Homo sapiens: one gene and its partner. The main gene of each other region encodes a partner of the protein of the gene in region 2 in a complex. Each region holds a gene or a part of one and is shown on either strand. Other genes may lie near its edges.

Region 1 (7,781 bases), on a different chromosome or scaffold from region 2:
ATCAGAAGTTCAGTGGACTTCTGATAACGTCTAATTTCACGGAGCGCCACAGTACCAGGCCTTTAAAAAATTAATAAAGAAACTGTTACCAAAAACATAACTAGCACAAAAAGGTAAGTGGGCAGCTTCAAAGAAATGCAGTAATCTTTCAAAAAATAAGCCACCCAACAATTCTTCAGCTTCAGTATCAAATTTCACTGATCAACTTAAGATGTGAACATTCAAATCTAGTAACAATACCTTTAAAGCAAAAAGCATGAAATTAAAATGCATTCTTAGCAAGAAATTCATCAAAGCCCTATTTATTTTCATTTTAAAAAGTTATTCATGTATATAAACCTTGGGAAGGTATTAGCTGTCAGGCTAATGAAGAAGTTGGCTCCCCTCAATTTAGCACCACTCTCCTTCCCTACACCCTCTATTATCTTAAGAGCCCTTAAAGATGACCAACACAACCCAATGAACTTCATTTAAAAATCTGCTTGTGGCATTCAAGTTCTATTTCCCAGAATACCTCTACCCTGACTACAGTTCACCCCTCATCAACTATTAAATTTGAATACACCCGATTGTGCAGTGTTCCTTCCACGTGGAAAAGTTTTTTTTACTAAGTAATTGTCAGCAAGAAATTTACCTCTCATTCTGACTTATTTCTTCCACTGTATGAGCTTTTATTTTAGGTTAATCGTAATATTTGCGGAGGCTAAGTCTAGGCAACTTCTGCCCTCTAATGGCAGATGCCCTTAACAACACAGTGGCTCAGGTAGTTCACAATCAAAAGAGCTAATACAGAAGGAAATAAGCTAATCAAGTAAATGAGGGGGTAGGAACTTTATAAAACACCCAATCTCGATTATATTATTATTTTGCCAAAAACTAGGAAAGATAACCTCAAAAGTGTATTCAAGAAAGCAACACTTAACTATTTTTAAAGAATTACTAATAGTTAACTAAAATGTCAATATATCCCATTAACATTATCAGTGATATACGAGGTCTCCTTAGACCTCCAGGTAAGATTATGGCTTCAAAGTTAAACGTTTTCAATAAAACCTAATACTTAACTTTATATATAAATGATCATACAGTACATTTATTTAAGCAGTAGTTAAGTGTTCAAATGAAAAAAAAAAGTTTCTCTAAAGCAAAAAGTTTTCCTGTTATCCATCTTTTTGTTAAATTATGTGGATACATACAAGAGAGACTTTGTCCCATTTTTTTCCTGTTTTTTAATACCTGTAACGATGAGGTTTCTTCACCCCTCCAGTAGAGGGCGCACTCTTGCGAGCGGCTTTTGTAGCCAGTTGCTTCCTGGGTGCTTTACCACCGGTCGATTTGCGGGCAGTCTGCTTTGTACGAGCCATGGTACAGAGACCTCCTTACTTACCTACCAGCATTGAAAAATCAAAAATCACCATATGCAACTACCAAACATACAACTTTTCCTGCCACGATCACCCCCTCCCCAAATCTGGAAATTATGATCAGTATAAAAAATAATGTTCGTATTGTTATATAATTTGAAAGGGTGAAGATTACGTCTACCCAAAATCTCTTCTTGAAACAAACTAGAGTACTAGAAAATTGTTAGCAGTATCAATCACCTCTCAAAATGCCAATTCTGAGCGACAAACGGCAAAACAAAAATACCTCGAACGGCCTTTGATCCAATTTATTTAATTAAAGCAGTAATTAGAAATGTCTGTAAACATTCCATCCACAAACAAGTCAAAAGAAAAAAGGCACAAACCACTGGAAGGTCGAGTCAAATTACAGCAAAAAAAAGGTCTTACTCCCCCCCACTTTGGCTGCCCCCCCTTCGTCTGACTGTTGATGGATTGCTGTAAATATCTGAAAATATTCTTGGTTTTGCATCTTTACAGTTATGTTGACAAAAAGGCGTCTCGAAAAAACAAGAGAGGAACAACAGCTACCACCAGCGAGCATTCTACAAAGCCCCGTCCTCGCGTCCAGTCCTCACAGGCTTCGCAGTGAAATAAAAAGTGCCCCGCACCCAGGCTTTAATTAACGCACGACATCCGCCGACCGGTCCACCCCAAGCACCACATAAACTTTTGGTTTTGCCTCCTTCGGGTCCCTCGGCACAGGGTCCCCCAACCTGCCCGCCTCGCTCCCAGCGCCTCGAGCAGGAACCAACTCGGCTCCCCGACCAGAACAAAATGGAAACAATCGCAAAACGTATCCGATTCCGTTCCAAAGAGACAAAACACCAAATCGCTCGAAAATACCCCTATCCCCTGCCACGTGCCGCCCTCCAAAATGCAAAAGTTTTTTTTGCATTTCAAATGCATCAAGTTTCCGCCTCTCCAAAAAAGGGAAAAAAACGTCCCTCTTTTAAAAATTCTTGCTTTTTTGAAATGGGGAAGAGAGAAACGGGGGAAAAAATATGGTCGGTGACCAGAGAAGAGAGACAAGATGGTGAAGCTTAGCAACAACTGTGGGGAGGCAGCAAAAAGCGAGTTACCCCAGGGTGCGAAGCGGCGGCGATTTCCACCCCTTTCCCGCTCGAAAACTGGGGGCTGGGGCCCGGGGGCGGTAGTTAAGAGGCCCGCGCGGGTCATGGTGAAGGTTTGGGGTCCGGGGAAGGGGCGGCGGGCGGGATTTCACCGAAGAAAGAGGAGCCAGGGGCGCGGGGAGGAGGAGGGAGAGCAGGCTCGGCGCCGCGGCGGTTGCTGCTGTTGGGCTGAGGCGGCGAGAGACGGGGGAGCCGCCGCCGCCAGAGGGAACAGGGAAACTCGCTCCTCACCTCCATTTCTGGGCCAAAAAGTTTGTGGGCTAAGCCGGAGGGGCTATGGGTCCCCTCCCGGCACCGCCAGGGCCCGGCTCGGGGCTGACGGCAAGCGGGGCTCGGTTCCGGGGAAGCGGGCAGACGGGGAAACTTACCCCCCTTCTCCTTCGGCTGGAGCTCGGCGAGCGAGAGGCGGCGCTGGCGTTGGAGAGCGACGGCGGCGCGGCGGCGGCTGCGAACACAATTGAAAGATGGCTGACACCGAGGCTATCCCCCAACACACGCCGCCCCGCCCCCGCGCCGCGCGCCAGCCAATCACACACAATGGAGGGAAGGCTCGGCCCCGCCCCCATAGCTCCTCTCGCGCCCCGCCCCCGCCCTTCCCCCCGCGCGCCCGTTCGCTGGCGCGCGCTCGCCCCTCCCCCGCGCGCCGCCCGCTCCCTCCTCCAGGCCGCCTCGCGCCGTGTGTGTACAAACACAAAAGACACGCTGAGGGGCCGCCGGCTCCCGCCGAGACTGCCGCCCGCACCCGGCCAGCCCCCGCCCCCGGCCCTGCACTCCCATCCCGCTCCGTGTGCGCACGGCGTCGAACCCCCGAAGCCCGGGTTTGGGGCGCCCGGAGGGAAGTGGGGGGAGGGGAAGGCGGGCGGAGGCGCGGCGGGTGAACGCCCGGCCTGCGGGCGTCTCGGGCCGCGGCGGGGAGGGGAGGGAGGGGCTGCCCCCGCGCGGGCCCCGGCGCGCGCCCCCGAGGAGACCCGGGCGGCAGTGGGGGAGGAGGACGCGGTCGGCCGGGTCGCCGCGCCCCATTGGAAAACGCTCCCCAGCAGGAAGCTGGCAAATAGGAATCCAGCGTCCCGCGCCCGCTGTCGGACCTGGCCGCTGCGGCAGCGGGAGGGGCGGACCGACGGCCTCCTTCCCGCCTGCGCGCTCGGCCAAGTGCGGCCGGGTCCTGCGGGACCGGCCCGAGTCCGCCGTAGACAACTTGATCCGCTAAGACTCCTGGGCCGGCCGCCTGCGTGCAGGGCAGCCCCTCGCCGGTGTTGGCCTCCGGGATCAGGGGACGGGGCTCGCTCTCCTCCCGGGCCCGGGCCCCCGACGCAAGATGGCTGTGTCGCGTCGGCCTCTAAACAATGTGTGGAGCGCGCAGCTCCTGCACCAGGGCCTGGTGGCTTGTCCTGCCCGCCCGTGGGGGCCGTGTGATCTGTTTTCGGTAGGATTGCTTTGGAAAGGAATTGCCGAATATAGATAGTCAAATGTCCGCAGCTTCTGCATAGTTTAGAAGAGGCTGAAAACGGCAGAAAGAAGGCAAACGTGGTTTGGGAATTAGTACATATACCTGTTTTCCAATTCTCAGTAGCATAGGAAACGGACTTTTCATGGCCCAAGTTATCCTCACGACTTGTCAGTTGATTGGCTTTGGAACCTCTGAACCGTCCCTAGATGGTATTGACGCTTCACAACTGTGTGTAAAGGTTTTCAATGGAAGGGTCATGCAAATATCCCGTAGGGTAGTGAAGGAGGAAAATTTCATAAATGAAGGGCAGTAATTATTTGTAATCTGAAGATCTCACAAAGCGGCTTAGTGATAAACATTATCCCGAAACAGATACATGGAAATCAGATACGAGGGAAGAAATGGATTTGTCCAAGGTCACTTAAGTGAGGAAGAGACCTAGGAGAAACAAACAGACAAAAATCCAGGCCTCCCGTTTCATTATTATTTCATGAATGTTAAGTGTCCATGGTTGCTGTGCAGAACACATGCAATCTCTAATCCTATCCTAAAAGCACATATGCAATCAGCTTGGACCGAGCTGCCAGCAAAGAATTTCCTATAATTCAAGCCAAGATGAGTTATTTTGCTTGTTTTTTGTTTTGTTTTCAGGAAACCGAAATATTTATTGTTGGATTTATCCAGGAAGGCTGTTCTGCATTAGTTAAATGCATCATATCTTCAAGAAATGTTAAATGACATGGGTAATGTTTTCTTTGTATGCTGGATTTTTCAATAGCTTCTACTTCTTGGCTTTAAAAAATATTTCTAACCAAGGGTCAGACCATTTTAGGTAGAGTAATTATGATCTTAGATGATTTGAACTAACTCAGCTGTCTGTCCATTTGTGAAATGGGAATAATAATATTTATCTCTATGAAGTTAGGCCACAAATTCTTTCTAGTAGGTTCAAGTATTTAAGCACCTGGAGAGGTGACTGGTTACCCTCCTAGTGGCTTCAGGAAGTTTTCTCACTGAATGAATATTTATTGAGTGCCAACTCTGCTCAGCACAATTCAGGGGTGCTGGGAATGCAGCAGTGAATAACACAAGCAGTGTTCCTGCCCTCATGGGGCTTATGATCTCTGGAAGCACTGCTTTGCACAGGGAAGTAGCACCAGGAGGGGGTAAAGAAAGAGGGACTTTGGAGCCCCAAGATTGGCAAAAACTATAGCTAATGAGAGAGGTGAACTGTAGAGTCTAGATAATGGGGAAGGAGAGGTGCCAGAGCAAGAAGGGATTCTCACAGGGCCCTACGGGTCAGTCCTGAATTGGCTTTACTAGAACTCAGGCCCAGCACAATGGCTCACATCTGTAATCCCAGCGCTTTGGGAGGCCGAGGTGGGTGGATCACTTGAGATCAGGAGTTTGAGACCAACCTGGCCAACCTGGAGAAACCCTGTCTCTACTAAAAATAAAAATTAGCCGTCATGGTGGCACACGTCTGTAATCCTAGCTACTTGGGAGGCTGAAGTGGGAGGATTGCTTGAATTTGGGAGGTGGAGGTTGCAGTGAGCCGAAATTTTGCCACTGCACTTCAGCCTGGGCAACAGTAAGACTCCATCTCAGAAAAAAAAAAAAATAGAATTCTTGGGCTAATAATGGCCTCAACATTTGCAGTTAAAAAAGAAATGGGGAGGATGGGAGCAAAAGGTTTTAAGTTAAAATATTTTCCTTAGAATAGAGTACTTATGGCCATGAATTTAGATTTGTTTATAAGTAGAAAAGTAGAATGGAAAGGATTTTAAAAGCAACGCTATTCATATCTGCTTGGCTCCTGTCAATCAACTGCAAAGATTACTGCCTCATGGAGATGCTTCTGGTCACTGTAATGCTATCTCCATGCACACTTTATCACATTGATTTCACATCACCTTTTTATCACATTGATTTACATCTATCATTTGTTCACTTGCTTATTGTCCAGTTCCTCCCCAAAGAATATAACCTCTGAGGTAATGGTGGTCTTGTCTGTTTTTTCTCCTGTCCCTGATCATTTGCTGTACCTTTTTATTAGGTGATCTCATCCAGTTACATGGAAATTATCATGTAGAAAAATAGAATAAAACAATGAACCCCTTGTACCCATCTTTAGAAATTACTGACTCATGACCAATATTGGGTTCCCTCTATACTCTACTCACTTCTACCTCACCGATTTGAATTATTTTGAAGCAAATCCCAGCCTGCATTATTTCATCTGTAGATAATTTAGTATGTATCATAGGAGTCAAATAGATGATTGATGTGCCCCTTAAATCTCTTATAATCTACAGATTCTTTCTCTGTATTTGTACTTTGTTGAAAAATATGGATTGGCCAGGCGTGGTGGCTCACACTTGTAATCCCAGCACTTTGGGAGGCTGAGGTGGGCTGATCACTTGAGGTCAGGAGTTGGAGACCACCTTGGCCAACATGGCGAAACCCTATCTCTACTAAAAATACAAAAATTAGCCAGGCGTGGTGGCTCACGCCTGTAGTCCCAGCTACTTGGGAGGCTGAGGTAGGAGAATTGCTTGAACCCCAGGAGGCGGAGGTTGCAGTGAGCAGAGACTGCGCCACTGCACTCCAGTCTGGGCGACAGAGCAAGACTCCGTCTCAAACAAAAGAAAAATATGGATCATTTATCCTGAGGCTTTGGATCCACACTGTCTAAAACTGTCCTTTCCCTCAGTCTTGTCCAGTAAATAGCACTACCATTTACTCAACTCAAACCAAAAAGTACAGACAGCCTCCTTGAGCCTCTTTTTCTTTCACCCCGATAGCCAGTCTATTGGTCTTGCTCTGAAATGCTTATCAGAATGACCTACTCCTCTTCTCATCTCTTACCTGCCCTTCAACAGTAACTTTCTGTATGACCTTTCTCTTTCCACTCCTGCACCTCTGTATTTTATTTGCTACCAAGCAGACACAGATTAGATTATAGAATATAAATCAGATTAGGTTGCATTCTTGCTTAATCCATTCAGTGGCCTCCCACTGCTCTTGGTTAAATTCCACATGTGTGGGCCCTGGCATTACCCCTCTTTCCCCTCCGCACTGTGCTGCAGACTAGCCACCCCTGGTCCATCAAGTCCTCCTCTGCCTTAGGATCATTGCATCTGTTCTTTCTGAAGCTTGAATTCTCTTCCACCAGCTTTTGATAGGACTGTCTCACCATCTTCTAAGGCAAACTTTCTAACCTTTCCCATGTCATTTTCTTCTTAGAAAATGATCATATTTGGCCAGGTGCAGTGGCTCACACCTCTAATCCCTGCACTTTGGGAGGCCGAGGTTGGTGAATCACCTGAGGTCAGGAGTTCGAGACCAACCTGGCCAATATAATGAAACCCCGTCTCTACTAAAAATATAAAAAATTAGCCAGGCATGGTCGTGGGCACTTGTAATCCCAGCTACTTGGGAGGCCTGAGGCAGGAGAATCACTTGAACCCGGGAGGTGGAGGTTGCAGTGAGCTGAGATCACACCACTGCACTCCAGCCTGGGCAACAAGAGCGAAACTCCATGTCAAAAAAAAAAAGAAGAAAATGATCATATTTGTAAGTTGCACCGAGGATTAGTGGAGGGTATTTGGAGCCACTCATATGGAACTTGATTTTTAAATTTGGGCTTGGCATGGTAGCTCAAGCCTGTAATCCCAGCACTTTTTTATTTGTTTGTTTGTTTATTTTTTTTTTTTTTGAGACAAGAGTTTTGCTCTTGTTGCCCAGGCTGGAGTGCAGTGGCTCGATCTCGGCTCACTGCAACCTCTACCTCCCGAG
Region 2 (7,931 bases):
ATGAAAGATTAGCTGGGTGTGGCACATGCCTGTGGTCCCAGCTACTAGGGAGGCTGAGGTATGAGGATCACTTTAGCCATGGAAGGCTGCAGTGAGCTGAGACTGAGACTGTACCACTGCACTCCAGTCTGAGCAACAGAGTGAGGCCCTGTCTGAAAAAATAAAAAATAAAAATAAAAAAAATAAAAAAGAAAGAAAAAAAACAAAAAAGTGTAAAAAAAAATTATTTCAGAACCCTAAGGATATATCATCTGGGAATCTGGGACTGAGGCTCTCTGAGGAATGTGGACTTTCTCCTTTTTATGAATGTTTCCGGTCAGGTGGGGTGGCTCACACCTGTAATCCCAGCATTCTGGGAGGCAGGAAGATCACTTGAGCTCAGAAGTTGGAGACCAGCCTGGGCAACACAGTGACATAGTGAAACCTTGTCTCTAATAATAAAAAATGTTTCAGTTACCAATTACCTCTCAAAGAGAAGTGCTGTCTTAATAACAAGTAATACTTTCAAGAGTATCAACAAAACAAAAACAAAAACACAAATACAAACACAAAATGTTACTCCAGGAATAAGATGGTAGGAACATCTCACTATGTTGCCAATACATCTATAAGACTAAAATTGTTCTGGCCGGGCGGGGTGGCTCATGCCTGTAATCCCAGCACTTTGGGAGGCCAAGGCGGGTGGATCACGAGGTCAGGAGATCAAGACCATCCTGGCTAACATGGTGAAACCCCGTCTCTACTAAAAACACAAAAAATTAGCCGGGCATGGCGGCAGGCGCCTGTAGTCCCAGCTACTCGGGAGGCTGAGGCAGGAGAATGGCGTGAACCCAGGTGGCAGAGCTTGCAGTGAGCCGAGATTGAGCCACTGCACTTCAGCCTGGGGGACCGAGCAAGACTCTGTCTCAAAAAAAAAAAAAAAAAAAAAAAAAAAAAAAAACTAAACTAAAATTGTTCTAAAAAAAATTTTTTTTTTGAGATGGAGTCTCACTCTGTCTCCCCGGCTGGAGTGCAATGGCACGATCTCAGCTCATTGCAACCTCTGCCTCCCAGGTTCAAGTGATTCTCCTGCCTCTGCCTCCCGAGTAGCTGGGACAGGCACATGTCACCACACCCCGCTGTTTTGTATTTTTAGTAGAGACGGGGTTTCACCATGTTGGCCAGGCTGGTCTCGAACTCCTGACCTCAAGTGATCCTCCCAAAGTGCTTAGCCTCCCAAAGTGCTGAGCTACCCCGCCTGGTCCTAAAAAAATTTTTTAAAGGTTTACTTAAAAATGATAGCCAACTCTCCTGGAACTCCTTTGAGGATAAGCCCTGGGACCCTAGTTTTGGAAACGCTGCCCCGCTTTGTTCTGTTCAGGACAAAGTTGGCTACCAATGCTTGCCCAGTGAATAGGTTTTGCTTATGATCTGGGGTTCTGTTGAGCTGAGTGTCTGCCTTGAACTCTGAAACCCCCGCTGAAATACCCTCCTTCCCCTCTCATCTGGTCCAAGAAGACCCAGGCTCTGCACCAGCAAAAAGAGACGGCACCCTCGGACAGCAGACACAACTCCTTTAGTCCACGTTTTCAAAGTCGAGGTGCAGGGAAAACCCAGTGTGAACGGACTGCTCCTCGGGCTTTCCTTTAATCGGGCCGTTTCCAAAGTGGCAAAAAATTCACACAGGACCCAAGCTAGCTAGAGGCCTCCTGAGGGGTTCCCCAGGGCATCAGTGCAAGAAGCCCTGAAAGACAAAGCCAAATGACACAGAGTAGCAAAATGTGAACAAGGAATCAAAGAGAAGAGATAAGAAGGAGTAACAAGAAGAAGAATGAACTACAAAGACTGGGAGCGGGGGTGGGGGGTGCTGGCAAACGCATTTGTGATTTTCTTTTCCCCCCAGTGAAATGTCAGTTTTGAAAGCAGCTTCGGAAAATGTAACCAGCTTCTCACATCCCCCAAAAGAAGATGGGAGGAGGCTGTTAGCTCTTACTTCGAAGCCCGGCATCAGGAAGGGGCCCGTCCCGTCCACGTTTCCACGAGGAGCTCACCCTGCGGCTCCCACCGTCCCCGCATGGGCCCTCTCCCCAGATCCTGAAGTTTCCCATTCGGGGGTCCTGAACGCCACACCTCGCACAGCGGTGGAACTCGGTACTCGCGGGCGCCCCAGACCAGCAAACACTTTCCAACCGTCCTGAGCTATCCAGGGGGTCCCCAGAGGGATCCCGGGCCGCCCACGCCCCACCCTCCTCCCTGCAGAGGCGGCCACGCCCGCCCCCGAGACGCCCACCTCTCCCGCACCCCGGACCTCCCTCCCCCACGCTTAAGCCCACCACGCCTGGCGTCCTCCAAATTCCCCTTCCACTCAGAGCCCCCCACTTCCTGCTCACCCACCCCTCCCAAATCTCAGGCCCTTCACTCCCCATTTCGCGCTCCCTTGCTCACTCTGGGCACCTTGCCCCTCCGGCCACCACGCACGCCCTCTTTTCTCTGTCTGTCCCCTGGCACCGGCCCTCCACGGTCGCTCCCTGCAGGCCACCGGCTCAGTCCCGGGGACCCCACGCCAGGCCCCCGCGCTCAGGGCCCCTCCCCGCCGGCCCCCGCCCCGGGCCGGCCTCGTGAGCAGCCCCGGCCCTGCGCCTGCCCCGGGGCCCCGTACTCACGGCTGTAGAGGGCGATGCCCGCCGAGTCCGGGCCGGCGCGCACCTCGAGGCGCAGCGCCTGCTGCTCCGCGTGCCGCTGGATCTCGCCGTTCGCGTCGCCGATGGTGAGGAGGCGGGCGCCGGGGAACACCGACACGGTAGCGCAGGGCCCCGCGCCGCCCGGGACCGCCGACCCCGCGCCGCCCGCGCCCGGCCCCACCGCCGCCGCCGCCGCTGCCATCTTAGATCCGGCTCCAGGCCCCGCCGCCGCCGCCGCTGCGCCCGGGCCCAGGCCGCCGCCGCTGCCGCCGCCGCCGCCGCCGCCGCCGCCGCCGCCGCCGCCGCCGCCGCCGCTGCCGCTACCGCCGCCGCAGCCGCCGTGCAGGCCGAGGCCGAGCCGGGCAGCGCCGCCTGCCGGCCACGCGCCGCCTCGCCGCCGCCGCCGCCACCGTCGCCGCGGCCCGGCCCCGTGGCGCAGCGCCCTCTGCCGGCCGTCCTGGGCGCGGGGAGCTAGCGAGCGAACGAGAGGGCACCCCGTGGGGCGGGACCGGCTACGCCCCGCCCCGCGAGAACGGTCGCCGCTTTGTGAGGTGGCTCCACCGCCCGGGAACTGCGGGGCGGGAGGGTACGTCGGGGGCGGTGCTCGGGCGCGCGGGCACGCCCCTCGGAGGCCTGGGCCCCGCCCCCAGGCCGGCGCCTCATTAACGGCTGCTTTCGAGTGAGGCGGTGCGGGGACGGCGGGGGCGGTGCTCGGCCGCGTGGACACGCCCTGTACCCCGCCCCACACAAGCAGCCGCGCGTCGTGATGCGGCTTCCCTGCCCCGACCTGGACACGCCCCTGAGACTGGGCCCCACCCCCCCGGGCCCGCCCGGCTTTGTGAGGCAGCCCTCAGGGAGGCGTGGCCCAGCCGCGACGAGGCCCCGCCCCCGTGCCTGCCCGCGCCCTCCCACCCGGACTCGCTTTGTCAGCCGCCCCGCTCTGGGGAATGGGCGGGGGAAAGGGCGTGGCCAGCGCCCGGGCCTCGCCCCCAACCCTTCCCCCCACCGCCCCCGCACCGACGATTTCCGATGAGCCCTGGCCTCCAGGAGCAACCTGAGCCCGGTTGAAAGGACCCCTCCCCGACATTCGACCGCTCCTCCTCCCTTCCCCATCATCTCTGCCCACATTGCCTTCTTAATCCTTAATGTTTGACTGTCTCCTTTCGCACAAGATATCCTTTGACCCCCTCCTCTCTCAGCCCCTCCTCCAACGATGCTGAGTCCAGCCTGGCCCGGCGCAGGGCCCCTCTCCCGCCACACAAACCCGTCTTCTCTCTGCATCCCCCTTCATTTTGGGTGGCCCCATCTCTTTTGGGCGACCCAGTGAGCTTGGGCCACTTCCTAGCACTCCAGCTTTAACTCTTCCCTAGACCTCATTTACGCCTCATTCCTTTTTTTTTTTTTTTTTTTTCTTTGAGACGGAGTCTCGCTCTGTCTCCCAGGCTGGAGTGCAATGGCTCGATCTCAGCTCACCGCAACCTCCGCCTCCCGGGTTCAAGTGATTCTCCTGCCTCAGCCTCCCGAGTAGCTGGGACTACAGGCATGCTCTACCACGCCCAGCTAATTTTTTATTTTTAGTAGAGACGAGGTTTCACCATGTTGGTCAGGCTGGTCTTGAACTCCTGACTTCAGGTGATCCGCCCGCCTCGGCATCCCAAAGTGCTGGGCCTACAGGCATGAGCCACCGCGCCCGGCCCCTTTTGTTTTTTGAGACAGGGTCTCACTGTGTTGCCCAGGCTAGAGTGCAGTGGTGCCATCATAGCTTACTGCAGCCTCAACCTCCTGGGCTCAAGCAACCCCCTGCCTCGGCCTCCCAAAGTGCTGGGATTATAGGTGTGAGCCACTGCGAGGGGCCCTCATTCTCCTTCATGTCCCTCACCCGTAGCCCCTGTCATTCCACCTCCTAAACCCTCTAATGCAAGTACCGTTGCAGAGACCCTGGCATGGCACTGCTGCACTCCCCACACCCCCAGGAGGCTCCGCATACACCACCCTGACTGCCCTTGAGAGATGCTTCAAATTTGGTGAATTCAGACACGCTCCACCCCCCAGCCATCCAACCATGGGATCCAGAGGTCCCCAGCTTGAAGGATTCCACTCCATAGAGGCCTGGGAACACCTTGACCCGTGTTATAATTAATAACTTAAGCAAGCCAGCAGGCAGACACACAACACACCCAAGGGCACCCTATGCTCAAAAACCCACTGGGGAAGGGAGGAATTCCACGGGTGTGCAGAGACCTGGGACGTCTTATGGCCCAGCTGGGGGACAAGAAGGGGTCCTGACATCTCCTTCTCTGGTGGTCCTGAGGAGCCGAAGGTCGAGAGGGGAACTTCCTGTTGTCTGTATAGTGCCAGGCCCATGCCTGTGTCCCCTCTCCCACTCCTCTGTGATGAAAATCCCAAGGCCAGGGTTCCCCTTCCTTTCCTCTGTCCAATTCCCTGAGAAAGTGGCTGACAGAGCCCCCCCAGAAGTAGCTGGAGGGACCTCAGGCCCCCGAATGCCTGGAGACAGAGGGGTCCCCCAGTCCTCAGCCTCACTGGCAGGCCCGGAAAGTGCTGAATTCGGGGGTCTCAGGCGAGGAGGACGTGGAAGTGGGCCTCTTCCGGGTCCTGGAGTTGCTGGGGGTGGCAGTGGTGCCTGAGTGATCATCCAAGGTGGCCGGGTCTTCTTCTGGCATCGTTTTCTTTGTCCATGTAAGAAGAAACACAGAAGTGGGTGATTTGGGGTTTCAGGATCTAGGGTTTCTCCATGTTCTGAGCCTGAGACTCTGCCAGCCCAGCAGGTCTCCTCTCATCCCGCCCCCACCCACACCCACCTGTCCTGGTCTTCCCTTCTCCTGCCTTCCTCTCTGCTAAACTGGGGACCAGAGAGCATGGATTCAAACACCAGTTCCTTCACTTTATAGCAGTGTAACCTCAGTTGTGTGGCTTCACCCCTCTATACCTCAGTTTCCCCTTCTGCAAAACGGGCAGAATGCTAGTACCCACCACTTCCTAGGGCTGCTATGAGGCTTAAAAGAGTAAAACTGATAAAGCAAATGGCACATCGTAAGCTCTTCTTTGCTAAGTGAACACAACCATTCATATTATCTCCTCTGTTGGGCCCAGTGGCTCACGCCTGTAATCCCAGCACTTTGGGAGACCGAGGTGGGTGGATCACCTCAGGTCAGGAGTTCGAGACCAGCCTGGCCAACATGGTGAAACCCTCTCAGAAAAATACAAAAATTAGGTGTGGTGGTGCACGCCTGTAATCCCAGCTACTCGGGAGGCTGAGGCAGGAGAATCACCTGAACCCAGGAGGTGAAGGTTGCAGTGAGCTGAGATCCTGCCACTCCTCTCCAGCCTGGGGAACAAAGTGAGACTTGGTCTCAAAAAAATAAATAAATAAAAAATAAATAGTATTATCTCCTCCTCCCCTCCCATTTGCCCATGGGCAAAACATTCCTCAAAAGTCTACCTCCTCCTCTGCCTTGGAGGCTCCTGACCCTGATCCTAGTTAAAGAGAGATGAATTTGCTAGAACTAAAGCCACTCAGTTGACAGCAGGCTGGGGGTTCCACCCACAGTCCTGTCCCTCCCAAGCTGGGTGACCCTAGGCCCATTATCAGCCTCAGTGTCCTTGTTCGTAAAAAGAAAATAATCGATCCCACCTGAAAGGGTGTTACAAAGTTGCATATCAGACACTCAGCAAGGTAATGGGGAAAGCTAGAGACAGGTCAGCTGCTGCCTTACCATTTCAGCCAACGACAAAGCAGTATAAGGCTTCAAAAGGAAACTAGAAGTGAAAGCAGAGACTCCAAAAGAAATTTGCATACCCATGGTCATGGCACGGTTCTGCACAACAGCCAAAAGGTGGAAACAACCCAAGTGTCCATCAACAATTGAATGGATCAACAAAACTTGGTGTATCCATACAACACAATATGATTCAGCCTTAAAAAGGAAGAACAGGCTGGGCACGGTGGCTCACACCTGTAATCCCAGCACTTTGGGAGGTCGAGGCGGGCGGATCACCTGAGGTCAGGAGTTCAAGACCAGCCTGGCCAACATGGTGAAACCCCATCTCTACTAAAACTACAAAAATTAGCCGGGCATGGTGGCAGGCGCCTGTAATCCCAGCTACTTGGGAAGCTGAGGCAGGAGAATCGCTGGAGGCTGGGAGGCAGAGGTGGCAGTGAGCCGAGATCACACCACTGCACTGCAGTCTGGGCGACAGAGTGAGACACTGTCTCAAAAAAAAAAAAAAAAAAAAAAAAAAAAAGAATGTTCTTCCTTTTTTTTTTCTGAGATGGAGTTTCGCTCTTGTTGCCCAGGCTGGAATGCAATGGCGTGATCTCAGCTCACAGCAACTCCGCCTCCTGGGTTCAAGTGATTCTCCTGCCTAAGCCTCCCGAGTAGCTGGTATTACAGGCATGTGCCACCATGCCCGGCTAATTTTTTTTTTTTTTTTTTGTAGTTTTAGTAGAGATGGGGTTTCTCCGTGTTGGTCAGGCTAGTCTCGAATTCCCAACCTCAGGTGATCTGCCCGCCTTGGCCTCCCAAAGTGCTGGCATTATAGGCATGTGCTACCGTGCCTGCCATGAAGGACATTCTGACACAGGCTACGTATGGCATGAATGAACCTTGAGGACATCAAGCTCAGCGAAACAGGCCAGTCACAAAAGGAAAAATATCATGTGATCTCATATCCATGAGATGTCCAGAAGAGGCAAATCCACAGAGACAGGAGAATGGTGGGTGCCAGGGGCTGGGGGAGGGACAACGGGGAGTGGGTGTTGCACGGAGACAAGTTTGGGAGGATGAGAAATTTCTGGGCCGGGCACGGTGGCTCATGCCTGTAACCCCAGCACTTTGGGAGGCCGAGGCGGGCAGATCACTTGAGGTCAGGAGTCTGAGACCAGCCTGGCCAACTTGGTGAAACCTTGTCTCTACTAAAAATATACAAAAATTATACAAAAATTAGGCTGGGTGCAGTGGCTCATGCTTATAATCCCAACACTTTGGGAGGTTGAGGTGGGTGGATCACCTGAGGTCAGGAGTTCAAGACGAGCCAGGCCAACATGGTGAAACCCTGTATCTACTAAAAATACAAACATTAGCTAGGTGTGGTATCAGGCACCTACAGTCCCAGCTACTTGGGAGGCTGAGGTGGGAGAATCGCTTCAACCCCAGAAGTGGAGGCTGCAGATGGCACCACTGCACTCCAGCCTGGACGATAATTGCGAAACTCCGTCTCCAAAAAAAAAAACTTTAGCCAGCCGCGGTGGCA

Evidence for each region.
Region 1: the proteins of CARM1 (region 2) and H3-3A are in contact, whole or in part, in a crystal structure (PDB 5DWQ), measured with the Homo sapiens proteins. Residues at the interface, in NP_954592.1 of Homo sapiens: Gln148, Tyr149, Phe152, Tyr153, Gln158, Asn161, Met162, Asp165, Glu257, Pro258, Met259, Gly260, Tyr261, Glu266, Val340, Leu412, Thr413, His414, Trp415, Tyr416, Ser447, Lys470, Pro472, Phe474; in NP_001365972.1 of Homo sapiens: Gly14, Lys15, Ala16, Pro17, Arg18, Lys19, Gln20, Leu21.

The regions. Positions count from the first base shown.
Region 1 is NC_000001.11:226,057,935-226,065,715, reverse strand, and holds the start of H3-3A (histone H3.3), read right to left. Parts: upstream 3,001-7,781; 5' UTR 2,905-3,000; intron 1,388-2,904; 5' UTR 1,365-1,387; coding exon 1,237-1,364; intron 61-1,236; coding exon 1-60. UniProt on the Homo sapiens protein: Variant histone H3 which replaces conventional H3 in a wide range of nucleosomes in active genes. Constitutes the predominant form of histone H3 in non-dividing cells and is incorporated into chromatin independently of DNA synthesis.
Region 2 is NC_000019.10:10,866,634-10,874,564, reverse strand, and holds the start of CARM1 (histone-arginine methyltransferase CARM1), read right to left. Parts: upstream 3,013-7,931; 5' UTR 2,863-3,012; coding exon 2,643-2,862; intron 2,137-2,642; exon of another isoform or gene 2,088-2,136; coding exon of another isoform or gene 1,973-2,087; intron 1-1,972. Other genes in the region: C19orf38 (protein HIDE1 precursor), read right to left, coding at 5,198-5,347. UniProt on the Homo sapiens protein: Methylates (mono- and asymmetric dimethylation) the guanidino nitrogens of arginyl residues in several proteins involved in DNA packaging, transcription regulation, pre-mRNA splicing, and mRNA stability.